Linked DNA regions of Homo sapiens. The protein of the gene in region 1 interacts with the protein of each later gene in a pairwise test. Each region holds a gene or a part of one and is shown on either strand. Other genes may lie near its edges.

What was found.
Region 2: the proteins of GPR143 (region 1) and TYR interact in binary tests that used the Homo sapiens proteins (3 or more experiments, as listed by UniProt).

The regions. Positions count from the first base shown.
Region 1 is NC_000023.11:9,762,795-9,770,811, reverse strand, and holds the start of GPR143 (G-protein coupled receptor 143), read left to right. Parts: upstream 1-4,964; 5' UTR 4,965-4,994; coding exon 4,995-5,244; intron 5,245-8,017. UniProt on the Homo sapiens protein: Receptor for tyrosine, L-DOPA and dopamine.
Region 2 is NC_000011.10:89,187,677-89,194,953, forward strand, and holds part of TYR (tyrosinase precursor), read left to right. Parts: intron 1-3,525; coding exon 3,526-3,742; intron 3,743-7,277. UniProt on the Homo sapiens protein: This is a copper-containing oxidase that functions in the formation of pigments such as melanins and other polyphenolic compounds. Catalyzes the initial and rate limiting step in the cascade of reactions leading to melanin production from tyrosine.

The DNA.
Region 1 (8,017 bases):
AGCAGCTATCTGAGCACAGAGTTTAAGGCACATTGTGTGTCTATAAGGACTCTAGGAGTGAGCACAAAAGCAGGGTGAGGCAAGGAAGGAAGAAAGCAAATTAAGAGCAGTGCCATTCATGAACTGGCCACAAGATTCCCAAGAAACCCAGCTGGTTACACAGGAACATATGAAACCACTCCTCAGAAACCTCCCTAGGAAGGAAGGGTGAGCAATACATCTGCCAGTGACTTCCTGCTTCCTCTCTCATTGGAATAAGTTTGTCTGCCCCACTAAGTGTTAATCCTCCTCCATTTCTCGGTTGTTGCCCAGCCTTTCAAGCAGCTGCTAGATAAGCCAGAGCCTCAGGTGGTAGACTTACAGGAACTGCAGCCTATGGCCCTTTGCCTGTTTTGTAAATAAAGTTTTATTGGCACACAGCCATACCCATGGACTTATGTATTGGCTGGTCTTCCTCTCTCTCTCTCTCTCTCTCTCTCTCTCTCTCTTTTTCTTTCTTTCTTTCTCCTGTTCTTGCTCTGTCGCCCAGGCTGGAGTGTAGTGAACTCCTGACCTCAGGTGATCTGCCCGCCTCAGCCTCCCAAAGTGCTAGGATTACAGGTGTGAGCCACTGAGCCCGGCTTTTTTTTTTTTTTTTTTTTTTTTTTTTTTGACTGGGGGAGGTGGGGGACAGGGTCTCCCTATGTTGCCCCAGGCTGGTCTTGAACTCCTGGGCTCAAACAATGCTCCCACCTTGGCCTCCCAAAGTACTGGGATTACAGACATAAGCCACTGCACCTGGCCATGTTTTGTCTATATCAATTTAAGTATCAGTAAAACCCACTTGGAAGGCTCATTCTGAATATTAAATGAGATAATGAATGTAATATTCAAAGCATAGTGCCTGCCTACACTCCATAAATTATTTTATTATTTAAATCTTATTTATTAGGCTGGGCGCAGTGACTCACGCCTGCAATCCCCGCACTTTGGGAGGCTGAGGCGGGCGGATCACCTGAGGTCAGGAGTTCGAGACCAGCCTGGACAACTTGGCAAAACGCCGTCTGTACTCTAAATACAAAAAATAGCCAGGTGTGGTGGCAGGCGCCTGTAATCCCAGCTACTTGGGAGCCTGAGGCAGGAGAATCACTTGAACCCGGGAGGCAGAGGTTGCAGTGAGCTGAGATCGCACCACTGCACTCCAGCCTGGATGATATAGTGAGACTCCATGTCAATAAATAAATAAACAAATCTTATTTATTATTTAAATTCAAATTATTGTGAATGGCAGTCTCCTTACTTAGGCTGTTTCTGCCATCCATCTGCCCCTAGCCACCTCCTCTACTGGATTCTAAGGGATATCTGAGTCTCACCATAAACCCCATTCTTTTGGTTGAGACATCTCGATGTCAGGGGACTCACCATGAAAAATAAACTGCCTGGGAGAGAAACTCAGGAACCGTCTTCCAGCAGTTGATCAAGTGCATCTGATCAAGTGGGAATGGTGGGTAAATGGTGGATTGTGGAATGAGAGAAAGCCAAGATGATGGAGCATTTCCAGGGAACAGATGCCCCAGGCAGCCCAAACTGTGAAAATGGAGAGCGAATTCAGGTGCTAAACTGGGAAGGAGGGAAAAACGGAGGAAGGGTTCATGCAAAAACAGATGTACCTTCATGTACTCAAAGACCGATTGTTTCTGCACACATACCTCAAAGTTCATATTCAGCACCGCCATCCCTGTATCTCCCATATCTACGAAACTTCCAGATGTTTCTGCCTCCCAAGTGTGTGCGTGTGTATTTGCTTCACTTTTCTCAGATTTGTAGTTGTACTGTTTCATGAAAAGTTTTGTCAGGCCAGGCATGATGGCTCATGCCTGTAATCCCAGCACTTTGAGAGGCCAAAGCGGGTGGATCACTTGAGGCCAGGAGTTCAAGACCAGCCTGGCCAACATGACGAAACCTATCTCTACTAAAAAGACAAAAAATTAGCTGAGTGTGATGGCATGTGCCTGTGGTCCCAGCTGCTCAGGAGGCTGAGGCATGAGAATCACTTGAACCCAGGAGGCAGAGATTGCAGTGAGCTGAGATCACGCCACTGCACTCCAGCCTGGGCAATGGAGCAAGACTCTGTCTCAAAGGAAAAAAAAAAAAAAAGTTTGTCATCTCAGTTCACCCAAGCTGGAGTTTGGTGGTGCAATCACAGCTCACTGCAACCTCAAACTCCTGGGCTCAAGTGATCCTCCCACCTCATCCTCCCCAGTAGCTGCAACTACAGGTGCGCAGCAGCACGCTCTGCTAATTTGAGATGTGTCGTCTTCCTCTAGGGACAGCAGGACTGGCCTTCCCTTGGGACCCCACAGAAGGCAGGCAGGAGGCTCCACTGCCAGACAGGAAGCAGAGCCTTATTTAACAACAATGAGCTGCAAACTCCACCACTTCAAAAGATGCTGCTCCTAGAGGAAGACGCTAGAGATGGGCTCTCACTATGTTGCCCAGGATGGTCTCAAACTCTTGGGCTCAAGTAATCCTCCTGCCTCAGCCTCCTTAAGTGCTGAGATTACAGGTGTGAGCCACTGGGCCCAGCCTCTCATACCAATTTCTAGTTCCCTCTCACTTTGATGACAGGGTTTTAAATTTAGTCTTACACTCATGCTTCTGCACCTTTACTCTGAGGCTCATCTTTACCATTGTCATCTGTGCCATGGCCCTAGGAATCTGCATTCATATCCATTTTCTCACTGATGAGATTCTGACTACTGAGCTTGAGTAGTGGGCACCAGAGTCAGCCAGAGCCCCCTGGAGAGTACTCCCAGGTTATCACGTAGGAAGCAGAGAGGCGGAGTGTGTTTTCTGGGGCATGAAACAGTGACTCAAATGCAGGGACCCCTTTGCCTGGCCCACTGGCCCTCAACCTTCAGGCAAATGTACAGACACTCTTCATTTTTATCTTTTAAAGCACTTTCCATTACACTAACCTCCAGAAGCAACTCTGCTTACCAAGGCAGAAGGAAAGAGAGCCACTGTCCAAATTAGATATTAGAATTCAAGCTTTTAAACATTAATGCTTGGGGAGTAGTTCTATGGTGCTTCTGACTGTTTTTACAATGGAGTGTGTAATCCAGCAGAGCTGTTAAGCTTTCTGAAGATGTCAGTCTGTTCTGACTTCTAGGAAGGCAGCTGTGGAGTGAACAGGCTGCGTTTATAGACGTGCCAGATCTGGACTCTTTTGAAGTGGTGGAGTTTGCACCTCATTGTTGTTAAATAAGGCTCCGCTTCCTGTCTGGCAGTGGAGCCTCCCGCCTGCCTTCTGTGGGGTCCCAAGGGAAGGCCAGTCCTGCTATCCCTAGAGGAAGACGGCACAGATCATGCCTTCCTTAAAACCGCAAAGCTGGTGGGGAGAACAAGTGAGGAAAGTCCATGAACACAATGGGGACACCTGCACCTTGGTTGCTTGAAAAAAACCCAGAGAGGGGCCCATTTTACCAGGAGAGAGGAGGAAGGGTGTCTCTTGTGTGGTCACAAAGAGCCAATGAGGTTTGTTGAAGATGATAAATATGATGGAGCTGGATTTTTTTTTCTTTTCTTTTTTTAAAATAAAGGCCATAATCTAGAAGGAGCACTTCTATTTTCAGCCTTGAAGAACTTAAAAAAAAAAATCTTAGTATGCTTACTGTAATCATTAACACAATATTACTTGGAAACTTACATGTATAGAATAAAGCAAGATTTTCAATGTATGAGAAAACATAGAAAAATTAACGCAGTTAAGAAAAATCCAAATAAATAGAACTGAAAGTTAAGGTGCAAAATGTGTCTGTGTGTACTTATGCTGAGTACTTTTCCCTTTATTTTTTTAATGTTTTTAAATTTTAAACTTAATTCTGTGTGTGTGTGTGTGTGTGTGTGTGTGTGTGTGTGTGTGTGTGAGAGAGAGAGATAGGGTCTCACTCCATTGCTCAGGCTGGAGTGCAGTGGTGTAATCTCTGCTCACTGCAACCTCCACTTGCCGGGCTCAAGTGATCCTCCCACCTCAGCCTCCCCAGAAGCTAGGGCTACAAGCACGCCCCACCACATCCAGCTAATTTTTGTTTTGTTTCGTTTTTTGATACAAGGTCTGGCTCTATCGCTCAGGCTGGAGTGCAGTGGCACTATCTTGGCTCACTGCAAACTCCACCTCCTGGGCTCAAGCGATCCTCCCACCTCAGCCTGCCGAGTAGCTTGGATCACAGGCCTGGGCCACCACACCGGGCTAATGTTTGTATTTTTAATAGAGGTGGGGTTTCGCCATGTTGCCCACGCTGGTCTCCAACTCTTGAGCTCAAGCGATCTGCCTGCCTCGGCCTCCCAAGGTGCTGGGATTACAGGTGTGAGCTACTGCTCTTTCTTTAACATTGATCTGTTTGTTTCATTCATTAATTGTAAACGAAAATCCTGCCTCTGTGGGATTATATCCATGAATGAGAGAGGCCATAAAAAAAAGCACTAATTGGACAACCATCTCTACTTAGGAAAAAAGCAGTTACAGGGATCAGTCACAGTTTATGAACATGTTCTGGCGCCTTAAAGGCATCAAAATCAGGATGTCAGAGTCCCAAATAGGAAAGATCTAGTCCACGAGGCCTGTTTCTCTAGAAGACCAGTAAAGATGGCAGGTTTGGCGCTCTAGGTGGCAGAGAAACCACCAGGAAGGCTTGGTGAATGGGGAGAAAGGTAACCTTCCCAACCTTTCTGCTTCTCCTTCCACTTCCCTCCTCCTCCTCCCTCTTCCTCTCCTCTCAGCCCTCCCTCTCTCTGTCCTCCTCCTCCGCCCGCCCAAGCATCACCTCGTGAGGCCTCGTGGCGTTAGCCCAGTGCTCTCGGCCCCCACCGAGCCTGGCTCTACTGCAGGCGCTGGGGGTTGGGGTGGGGGAGAGGCCCAGGGCACATGATGCCGCCCCCAGCCCGCCCAGCACATGACCCAGGCAGGCCGGCGGGGTCCTGGCACACCCGAGCCGCGTCCGCGAACACAGCCCATGGCCTCCCCGCGCCTAGGGACCTTCTGCTGCCCCACGCGGGACGCAGCCACGCAGCTCGTGCTGAGCTTCCAGCCGCGGGCCTTCCACGCGCTCTGCCTGGGCAGCGGCGGGCTCCGCTTGGCGCTGGGCCTTCTGCAGCTGCTGCCCGGCCGCCGGCCCGCGGGCCCCGGGTCCCCCGCGACGTCCCCGCCGGCCTCGGTCCGCATCCTGCGCGCTGCCGCTGCCTGCGACCTTCTCGGCTGCCTGGGTAAGGGCGCGCGCGGCCCGCGGGTTGGAATCTGATCAGCGCCTGGGTGAGGGCGCGTGGCCCGCAGGTTGAGACCCGACTGGTGCCCGGATAAGGGCGCACGGCCTGTGGATTTGGACCTGTTCCGTGATGGAGTGAGGACGAGAGGCCCGCGGGTTGGAACCTGCCCGGTGCAGGGCTGAGGGCGCGTAGCTGGCTGGTTGGGACCTGCTCGGTCCCCGGCTGAGGGCTTGAGGCCCGCGGGTTGGGACCTGCTCAGTGCTGGGGTGAGGGCGTGAGGCCCTGGGGTTGGGACCTGCTCAATCCCCGGGTGAGAGTGCGTGGCCCGCAGGTTGAGACCGGATCGATGCCCGGGTGAGGGCGCATGGCCCGCAGGTTGGAACTCGATCCACTCGGGTTGGAACTTGATCGGTGCCCGGGTGATGGCGCACGGCTAGCGGGTTGGGCTGGCCGTCTTAACACTTGAACCACAGAGAAAAGAGAAAGCGGAGGCTGTTCCCTAGGGACCGGATGGGACAACTAGGTAATTTTTTTTTTTTTTTTTGAGACGGAGTCTTGCTCTGTCGCCCAGACTGAAGTGCAGTGGCGCAATCTCGGCTCACTGCAACCTCCACCTCCCGGGTTCAAGGGATTCTCTTGCCTCAGCCTCCCGAGTAGCTGGGGGAGGCGCGCGCCACCATGCCCGACTAATTTTTGTATTTTTAGTAGAGACGGAGTTTCACCATGTTGGCCAGGCTGCTCTCGAACTCCTGACCTCAGGTAATCCACCCGCCTCGGCCTCCCAAAGTGCTGGGATTACAGGCGTAAGCCACCGCGCCCGGCCGACTAGGTAGTTTTGCAAACACATGGTCGGTAAAATTCCCATCCAAGGGACGTTGGGTTTTAAAAAATCCGTTTATTGTGTTTGTTATATGGAAACTTCAGATGGCGCAGTTAAGCAAAACCCAGACCAGAAAAGATTTCCTCATTTTTGCCCAACTGCACCAGGGAGAGACTAACAATTAACTTCTCTCTGTCTCGCTCTGTGTGTGTGTGTGTGTGTGTGTGTGTGTGTGTGTGTGTGCGCGTGTGTAAATTCTTTTCTATTGTGCACTATATATTCTCTCGAGTATTTTGTAAGCTGAAATCCCTTCCCTATCCAGGCTTTTTGGGTATGGTTTTTACACCACAGGTGCGCAAACTGCAGCCCTCAGACCAAATCCTGCCCGTTTTCTAGGGTCCACGAGCTAAGAATGGTTTTACATCCTACTTTTTAAAAAATTAATGATTTTGTTTTTTGAGACAGGGTCTCACCCTCTTGCCCAGGTTGAGTGCAGTGTCACAATCACAGCTCACTGCAGCCTCGACCTCCTGGGTTCAAGCGATCCTCCCACCTCAGCTACCCGAGTAGCTGGGACTACAGCCACACGCCACCATGCTAGGGTAAATATATGTGGGGTCTCACTATGTTGCCCAGGCTGGTCTCCAACTCCTGGGCTTAATTAAAAGATCACCACCCTTGGCATCGTAAAGTGTTAGGATTACAGGCGTGAGCCACCTCACCCAGCCCTAAAATGTTTTTAAAAATCAAAATTAAAAAATATTTCCTGGCATGTGACTATTACTGAAATTTAAATGTTAATGTCTACAAATAAAGTTTGATGGGAACGCAGCTATGTTGTTCATGTGCATTTGTGAATTATTCATGGCTGCCTTTACCCTACAAGGGCAGGGTGAATATTGGACTGAGAAAGTATGGCTCCCAAAGCCAAAAATATTAAGAATGAGTTTGCCAACATCTGCTTTAAACTATTATGTGACACTTTATACAGACCTCTCAGCTAGATTTGGCCATTCTGTTTAGCTTTTTGGAACATTTCCACCATGCGTAAATGCAGTCTATAATAGAAACACTTACAGTGAATCCCTGTACGTGGGATTCGTGAGGTACGGGTACCCGGCTCATCTGCTCCCCTCTTCACCCTCCTCACTGGATTAATGTGAAGCCAATCTCAGGCTCCATCATCCTGCCCATTCAGATCTCAGAGAGAGCCCTAAAACATAATAATTCTAAACATTTGCAACCCCAATATCATTATCACTTTATTTTTGAGACAGGGTCTCACTCTGTTGCCCAGGTTGGAGTGTGCTGGCATGATCATAGCTCACTGCAGCCTCGAACTTCTAGGCTCAAGGGATCCTCCTACCTCAGCCTCCTGAGCAGCTGGAACTACAGGCATGCATCACCACACTGGCTAATTTTTGCATTATTTTTTCAGAGCTGGAGTCTCACCATCTTGCCCAGGCTGGTCAAACTTCTAGGCTCAAGCGATCCTCCTACTTCGGCCTCCTAAAGGTGCGGTGGCTCACGCCTGTAATCCTAACTACTCAGGAGGCTGTGGTGGACGGATTGCTTGAACCCAGGAGTTCAAGACTAGCCTGGGCAACGTAACGAGACCCAGGCTCTACCCCCAAGAAAAAAAAAACAACAAAAAAAAGGCCCGTCATGGTGGGATGCACATGTGGTCCCAGCTACTCACCAGGCTGAGGCAGGAGGACCATTTGAGCCCAGGAATTCCAGGCTAGAGTGAGCTACGATCCAGCCTGGGTGACAGCCAAGACCCTGTCTCTAAAAAAGTAAGGTGTACCCAAACATCTTTTGAGGGTTAGTGAATAATACTTGCATATCCTTTAGCCTTTAGAAGGGAAGTGGATGAGGTTGCGAGCAAATAAGCAGAAGTCAGGAAAAGGCTGGGTGATCGGGACCCCTTACTGAAAAATAAGAAATTTCAAT
Region 2 (7,277 bases), on another chromosome or scaffold:
CTTAACCTCTATAAGCCTGTTTTCTCATTGATGAGATGGAAATATCAAAAGAACTCCTCTCATAGAATAATTGATTTACTGTTATTGAATTTCAAACCAAAGTTTTCAAATGTCTTTGTGTCAGGCACCATACCATTACACAATAATACATAGTGAATAGGATACAGTTTATATTTTGATAGAGTTTATCACCTAACAGGTATGTTTATAAAGATTAAATATATACACCATATTGCCTTATTCATTGATTTAAAAATTCATTTACAAAAATATTAGCACTTTAAGTATTGAGTATTTTATGTAACTTATCTTCTAGTGGAGTAGGTCTAGTAAGTGTGTGTGGTGAGACAGTAAAACATTATATATAATATTTTATTTAAAAAAGTTAAAGGAGTTAAAAAATATAATAAGTTATATATATTGTTTTACTGTCTCACCCACTCACACTTCCTAGACCTACTCCACTAGAAGGTAAGTTACATAAAGTACTCAATACTTAAAATGCTAATACTTATTAAAAATGTTTAAGTCAATGAATAAGGCAATATGGTATAGACATTAAATCTTCATGACCATACTTATTAGACTGTAAACTCTATAAAAATAAAAACTATGTTTATCGTGTTCAGTATGTATTCTTGTATTCTGGTATAATGCCTGACACATAGACATTTTAAAACTTCGGTTTGAAAAGCAGCAACAATAAATCAATCATTCTATGAGAGTTCTTTTGATTACATAGTTTGTTAGAAGGTGCTAAGTGCACAGATAAAGCAGAAATTAGTGGTGTACAGTAAATGTTTAATAACTTGTTCTCAATGGAGGAGTGGGAAAGTAGGGAGAGATGATTCTGATTTGCCAATTGTTGTGGTGTAAATACTGACAATGGTAGATTTCCATCTAATGATGGGATACTGCTGAACATTCTAATATTGAGAAGGGTTACACACTTTGAACTTTTGCTAGCTAGTGCTAACCAGCTCTACAACACTGCTAAAGTGGGTAAGGCTGAATATGATGTTAAATAGATGTTTAGTGTAGATTTCATTAAGATAATGAAGATATGAATAACCCAAGCAGGTATCAAGGGAAAACAGTCTACCCAGAAAAAATAACCAGTACAGGAACATGTTGCATAAGAGTGATTGGTGAGTTTTGGGAAGGGCAAAGAGGCCAGTGAAGTTATAGAAGAGAGGGAAAGGGAAAGATCAGTAGGAAATAATGTTTGCATCAGTCAGGATCTCAGTAGGAAATAGATACCCAAACCAAGTTATATTAAGACAGTTTATTTAGAAAAATTTGATCAAGGTTTAGGGAAACCAACAAAGAACAACATCCTGTTGTCAGCCACAACTGAGATACAGGACTAGAACTCTCTATTTTATTTTAACCTAGAACCTACTTTTAAAAATTTTTTAATGTTGAGTTCTGCTAGACTAGTTATAAAAGCACAAAATACACTAAAGATGAAGTTGGAAAACTTGGGTTGCCATCACAACACTGCCATTTATTTGCCATATAACCTGAGAAATGCCACTTACCCTCTCTGAGTCTCATTTTCCTTATTTGTGAAGCGAAATGTATTGTTTTGTGATGTAAATGAAACAATGCATGTGCCGTGTTTTCTTAAAAAGTTTTGCTTATAGAAAGGTGAGAAATTCTTATTTTTAAGACGGTATTTCTACAATGAAAATCACCTTGGTTCTAGCTAAAGGATCAGAGAAATTTCTTTTCTTAAAAAACAATCAACCACGAGTATTGTACTGCACATCAAAAAAAAAAGGGACAATAATAGGATATTTTATGAACAAAAAGCACAAAATGAAACTATTTCTAGTCCTTGACATTCTGAATATAATATAGATTAATGTTTTTAAAGCTACTGTTTATTGAGTGTTTTCTGTTGGTCATGCCATGTGCTATGGGCTTTATATACAGTAAGATGCCTATCTCTATTGTTACCAACCCCAGCCTCAGCACTTGGCACAGTGCTTAATATATAATAGGTGTTTAATAAATATTTTATTTTCTATAACTATGTGAGGTAGTTGTTATTATCTTCATTTGATAGATGAGGCCTAGACAGTTAAATCATTTTCTTAAGTGGTAGATGCAACACTAGAATCCTGTTCCAGGTTTTAACTTTTATGGCTCATTCTGTAACCTTCAAAAAGCTAATTCTAAAATACAGTAGTATGCCACACAATGGCATTTCTGTCAAGGATGGACCACATATATGACAGAGGTCCCACACTACTATAATGGAGCTGAAAAATTCCTGTCACCCAGTGACATCATAGCAGTCATAATATTATACACAATGCATTACTCATGTCTTCGTGGTGATGCTGGTGTAAACCTACTGAAATCCCACTTGTATAAAAGTCTAGCACATAGCATTATGTACACTACATAATACTTGATAATGATAATAAACAACTATGTTACTGGTTTATGTATTTACTATCTATATTTTATCATTATTTTCGAATGTACTTCTTCCACTTATAAAAAAGTAAGTTAACTGTAAAACAGCCTCAGGCAGGCTCTCCAGGAGGTGTTCCACAAAACGCCTGGATGTTTTATAGAGATTGTTATAGAGATGATAGCTCCATGTGTACTATTGCCCCTGAAGATTTTCCAGTGGGACAAGATGTGGAGGTGGAAGACAATGATATTGACAACTTTGACTCTGTGTAGGCCTATGCTAGTGTGTATGCTTGTGTCTCAGTTTTTAACGAAATTTCAATTATGTTTATAATAAGTAAAAAATTAAATAGCATAAAGCTTATAGGCTAAGGATATAATAAATATTTCCTACAGTTGTACAATATGTGTTTTAAGCTAAGTGCTATTATCAAAAGACTCAAAAAGTTTTAAAAAATTAAGTAAAAAAGTTACAGGAAGCTAAGGTGAATTTATCATTAAAAAAGAAAAATATTTTTATAAATTTAATGTAGCCGATATATATATAGTGTTTATAAAATCTACTGTAGTGTAGAGTAGTATCTTAGGCCTTTATATTCACTCCTTATTCCCTCACTTACTTACCCAATGCAACTTCTAGTCCTGCAAGGTCCATTTATGGTAAGTGTCCTGTATATACAAGTATGCCATTTAAAAAAAAATTTTATACTGTATTTTTACTGTACCTTTTACATGTTTAGATAGGTTTAGATGTATAGATACTTGCCATTATCTTACAATTGCCTATAGTATTCAGTACAGTAATGTGCTGGACAGATTTGTAGCCTAGGAGCAGTAGGTTTTACCAAACAGCCAAGATGTTTAGTAGGCTATACCATTCTAGGTTTGTGCAAGTACACTGACTATGATGTTCACGCAATGACAAAATCACCTAATGATGGATTTCTCAGAACATATCCCTGTCATTAAAGACACATGATTGTAGTAATCTCCTCAGGAGAAGTCTAACAACGATAATTAGGAGTTCCAACATTTCTGCCTTCTCCTACTGACTCAGTGGTGGTGACAATTTGTTTAACATGAGGGTGTTTTGTACAGATTGTCTGTAGCCGATTGGAGGAGTACAACAGCCATCAGTCTTTATGCAATGGAACGCCCGAGGGACCTTTACGGCGTAATCCTGGAAACCATGACAAATCCAGAACCCCAAGGCTCCCCTCTTCAGCTGATGTAGAATTTTGCCTGAGTTTGACCCAATATGAATCTGGTTCCATGGATAAAGCTGCCAATTTCAGCTTTAGAAATACACTGGAAGGTAATCTCTTTCTTTTCACTTTTAATTTTTTTTCTGAATTCATATTTACAGTCTCTTATCCAAAGTCCTAGGAGGTATTTGAGAATTCAGAATTTTCTGAGTTGACCAAGAATATGTGTTGTATATACTTATATCGACAATGACCCTAGCTGACACTGGTCAGCACGTTATAATTCAACGTGTTAGCTTCAGGAGCCAGGCATGGTGGCTCATGCCTGTAATCCCAGTTTACTTGGGAGGCTGTGACAGGTGGATCACTTGAACTCAGAAGTTTCAGGCTGCAGTGAGCTATGATTGTGTCACTGCATTCCAGCCTCGGTAACAAAGTGAGAGACTCTGAGGAAAGAAGCAGCAGCAGAAGCAGAAGAAGCAGCAGTAGCAGCTTTAGTGAAATATATGAATATATTCATCATGGTAATAAATACAGGCAATAGGCAACCTAATGGTGAGTAAAGTCAGTTTTTTCCATTAAAAGAGAAAAATTAATTTCATTTCCAGAACATTTTGTATTGTGGAATTTCAGATATAAGTCTGTGGACTGATACTATTTTCCTACGTTTTAGTGTTTTAGTTTTCTCCTGTTTAAAATATTCTAGGCAGTGGGTTCTTTGAGGTAAGTTCATTCATTTAACTGTAATAAGGACACAGCACATAGGTAAAGCCTCCCTCTCATTATCCCTTAAGTTTTCTGTTCTTCATCAGAGATTACATCTCATGATCTTCTCTAACTCCTAAATATTTATCCTACAAATGTTTTCATCTTGCTTGCATTTTGCATTCAAACATCGATTCATTCTTTTCTGCTTATAGCTGACTCAGTCATGAAACCCATTTCACTCACATAAATTTGCATTAGGAAAACAAAATCACAAACAAACACAACAAAACAAAAACAAACAAAAAAAAACTCAATCAAGTCACAAATTTACCAGGAGTTTGGGGAAGACATAGGCACTGACTTGTGGCAAGGCAGACAACTCAAAATTTAACACTAGACATCGCAGCTCCTAAAAGGCCTGTGACACCTTAACATGTAGAAAAACTTTCCTCTCTTTTGTAATCCTTTCTCCTTGACTTGTTCTTTTTTTTTCCTTTTTGTCATTGTTTTACACCCCAACTTTTATTATTGTACTGTGCAGAGTGGTTTTACTGTTTCATTCATTTCCCTGTTTTATTCAAAACCATAATCTCAGGGTCTTACATCCAGAATCAATTGAAGCAAGGCAAGTCTCATCCTAAAGATGAATTCTGTTTTCCAGCTATGAAAATAGAAATTAGGTTTATTCTTCTATGGTAATATTCATGATTAACTTTTTAAAGTAATCACCGTATCCAAAACACCATGTCAAACACTTTGTATGGCATTAATTCACTCAATTCTAATAACTATCCCCTGAGGAAGATTGTATTTATTATTCCCACTTTTAAGGGAGGAAACATTATCAGAGATATTCATCTTTTGGTTATTGATTCCCATTGAAAAGTGGTGGAGATAATCTGCCCCCAGCTTTATCAAGTACCAAAGTCCAAGTTCTTTCCATTGCACTCTGATAATCAACAGTGGGTTGAGAGTTTCTTTAAAGTGGACAATACCAGTTTGGTCTTTTGACATAAGAAGGCAAGACATAATGCCAGGTAATCTCAGAGCCTATATAACAAATCTAAGGTACACAATTTCAAAGTCACCATCTGGGAGGATTGGGTGACCCACTGGACTCTTCAGGGATTAACAACAGTACTCAGAATGCTGATATTAATGACATTGCAAAGCGAAGCTACATCTTTAAGGAAACTGGAGCATTTTGCTGTTTTTTCAGCCATAAGTGACAAAGCATATATTTTATTATTAAGAAGCATGGGTTAGTTGCAGAAATAAGGCAGGGGAACATCACTCGTCTAGGGTCTCAAGTCAAAGAAAAAAAGTGGCTCAAGATGTGTCAACTCAGCCAGTGGTTTTCAAGTGAGAGTCTAATACACACAGGTGAGGAGGGAACAGCAGATTTACTACAAATAATTTGCTACTACAAATAATTTATGTTTGTAAATTATTTTTTCCCATAATTTATTCTCATTCTTACACACTTTAGTAGGCAAAGTGTGTGAGAAGCAAACAGATGCAACATAGCATATTGTCTGGCACACAGTCGTTCGGTAAGTATCTGATAACCGAGTATGTAAATAATAGCTAGAATCTTTCAAATTGCATCTAAACCACCACTTACCTTATCCATGCCTGTTGTATGAAGTCCATGTCATGAGAGAAAATGTGAGAAACCATTAAGCTCAGCTGCTAAGAAGAACTTTTCTTTACCAGGTACACATTTTAAAATTATTTTTTCTTAAATTTGTATTCAGCAATAATTTTAAGCTTACAGAGATGTTGTGAAAATAAAAGCAATACAAAAAACATGAATATATATTTTACCCAAACTTACTTACATTGTATCCTGTTTCTCTCTCTCTCTCTCCCAGTCTGAGCCATTTTAAGGGTAAATTGCATAGACTGTAACTCTTTACCCCTGAATATTTTAGTGTGTATTTCCTAAGAATAGGAATAGACTCATATAGCCACAGAACAGTTTTCAACTTCAGTAAACTCTATATTGATATAATGCTTTTATCAAATCTACTGTATATCAGTTTTTAAAATTAGATATAATAATATCCTCAGTATTTTTCCTCTCCAAAATAGAATCTAGTCTAGGATCAAATAGCATTTAGTTTTCATGGTTCTTTAGTCTGAAATATTTCCATAACCTTGTACATATGTGTCTTTATGTGCTTGACAGCTCTGGAGGATATAGTTCCTCCTCTTCCTCCTCATTTTTTTAATAGAACATTCTTCATTTTGAGTGTATCTAATATTTCTTCATGACTAGATCCAGGTAATGCACTATTAGCCAAAATTCCACATAGGTGATTATGCATCTTTCTGAGATGGTGTCACATCTGGAGGCACATCATGACCATCTGTCTCACGTTGGTGATGTTAATCACCTACTCCAGATGTGGTCCAATTTTCCCACTGTATAATTATTTCTTCCCCTTGTTTAATAAACTGTCTACATGGAGACATTTTAAGACTATGCAAATACCTCACCTCTTATCACAATTTCTTCTACAGTTGGCATCGTCGATGGTTACAAATTTATGATTTTTCAACTTCAGCACTGCTTTTAAATTTATTAGCCAATATTCAGGATTCTACTATTAGCAAAAATCCTCCATTTTTTCTATCTATCTATCTATCTATCTATCTATCTATCATCTATCTATATTAATGGTATGGAGTAAAGGCTTTCCATTGTTTGATAGTGTATAACTCATTGATGTGCTTAATTATCTTTGTGTTCCAATGGTTCCAGAATTTGCCCATGGTACACCTTCAAGCTGGTTCTTATGTCTCCATTTCATATACACATTTTTTAAAACACACATTCTCTCTGGTAAGCAAATTATTCTAGAGCATCTTGTACCTACAATGCTCCAGGCCTGAAATTAGCCATGACTCCAAGGAGTAATGTTTTCTTTCATT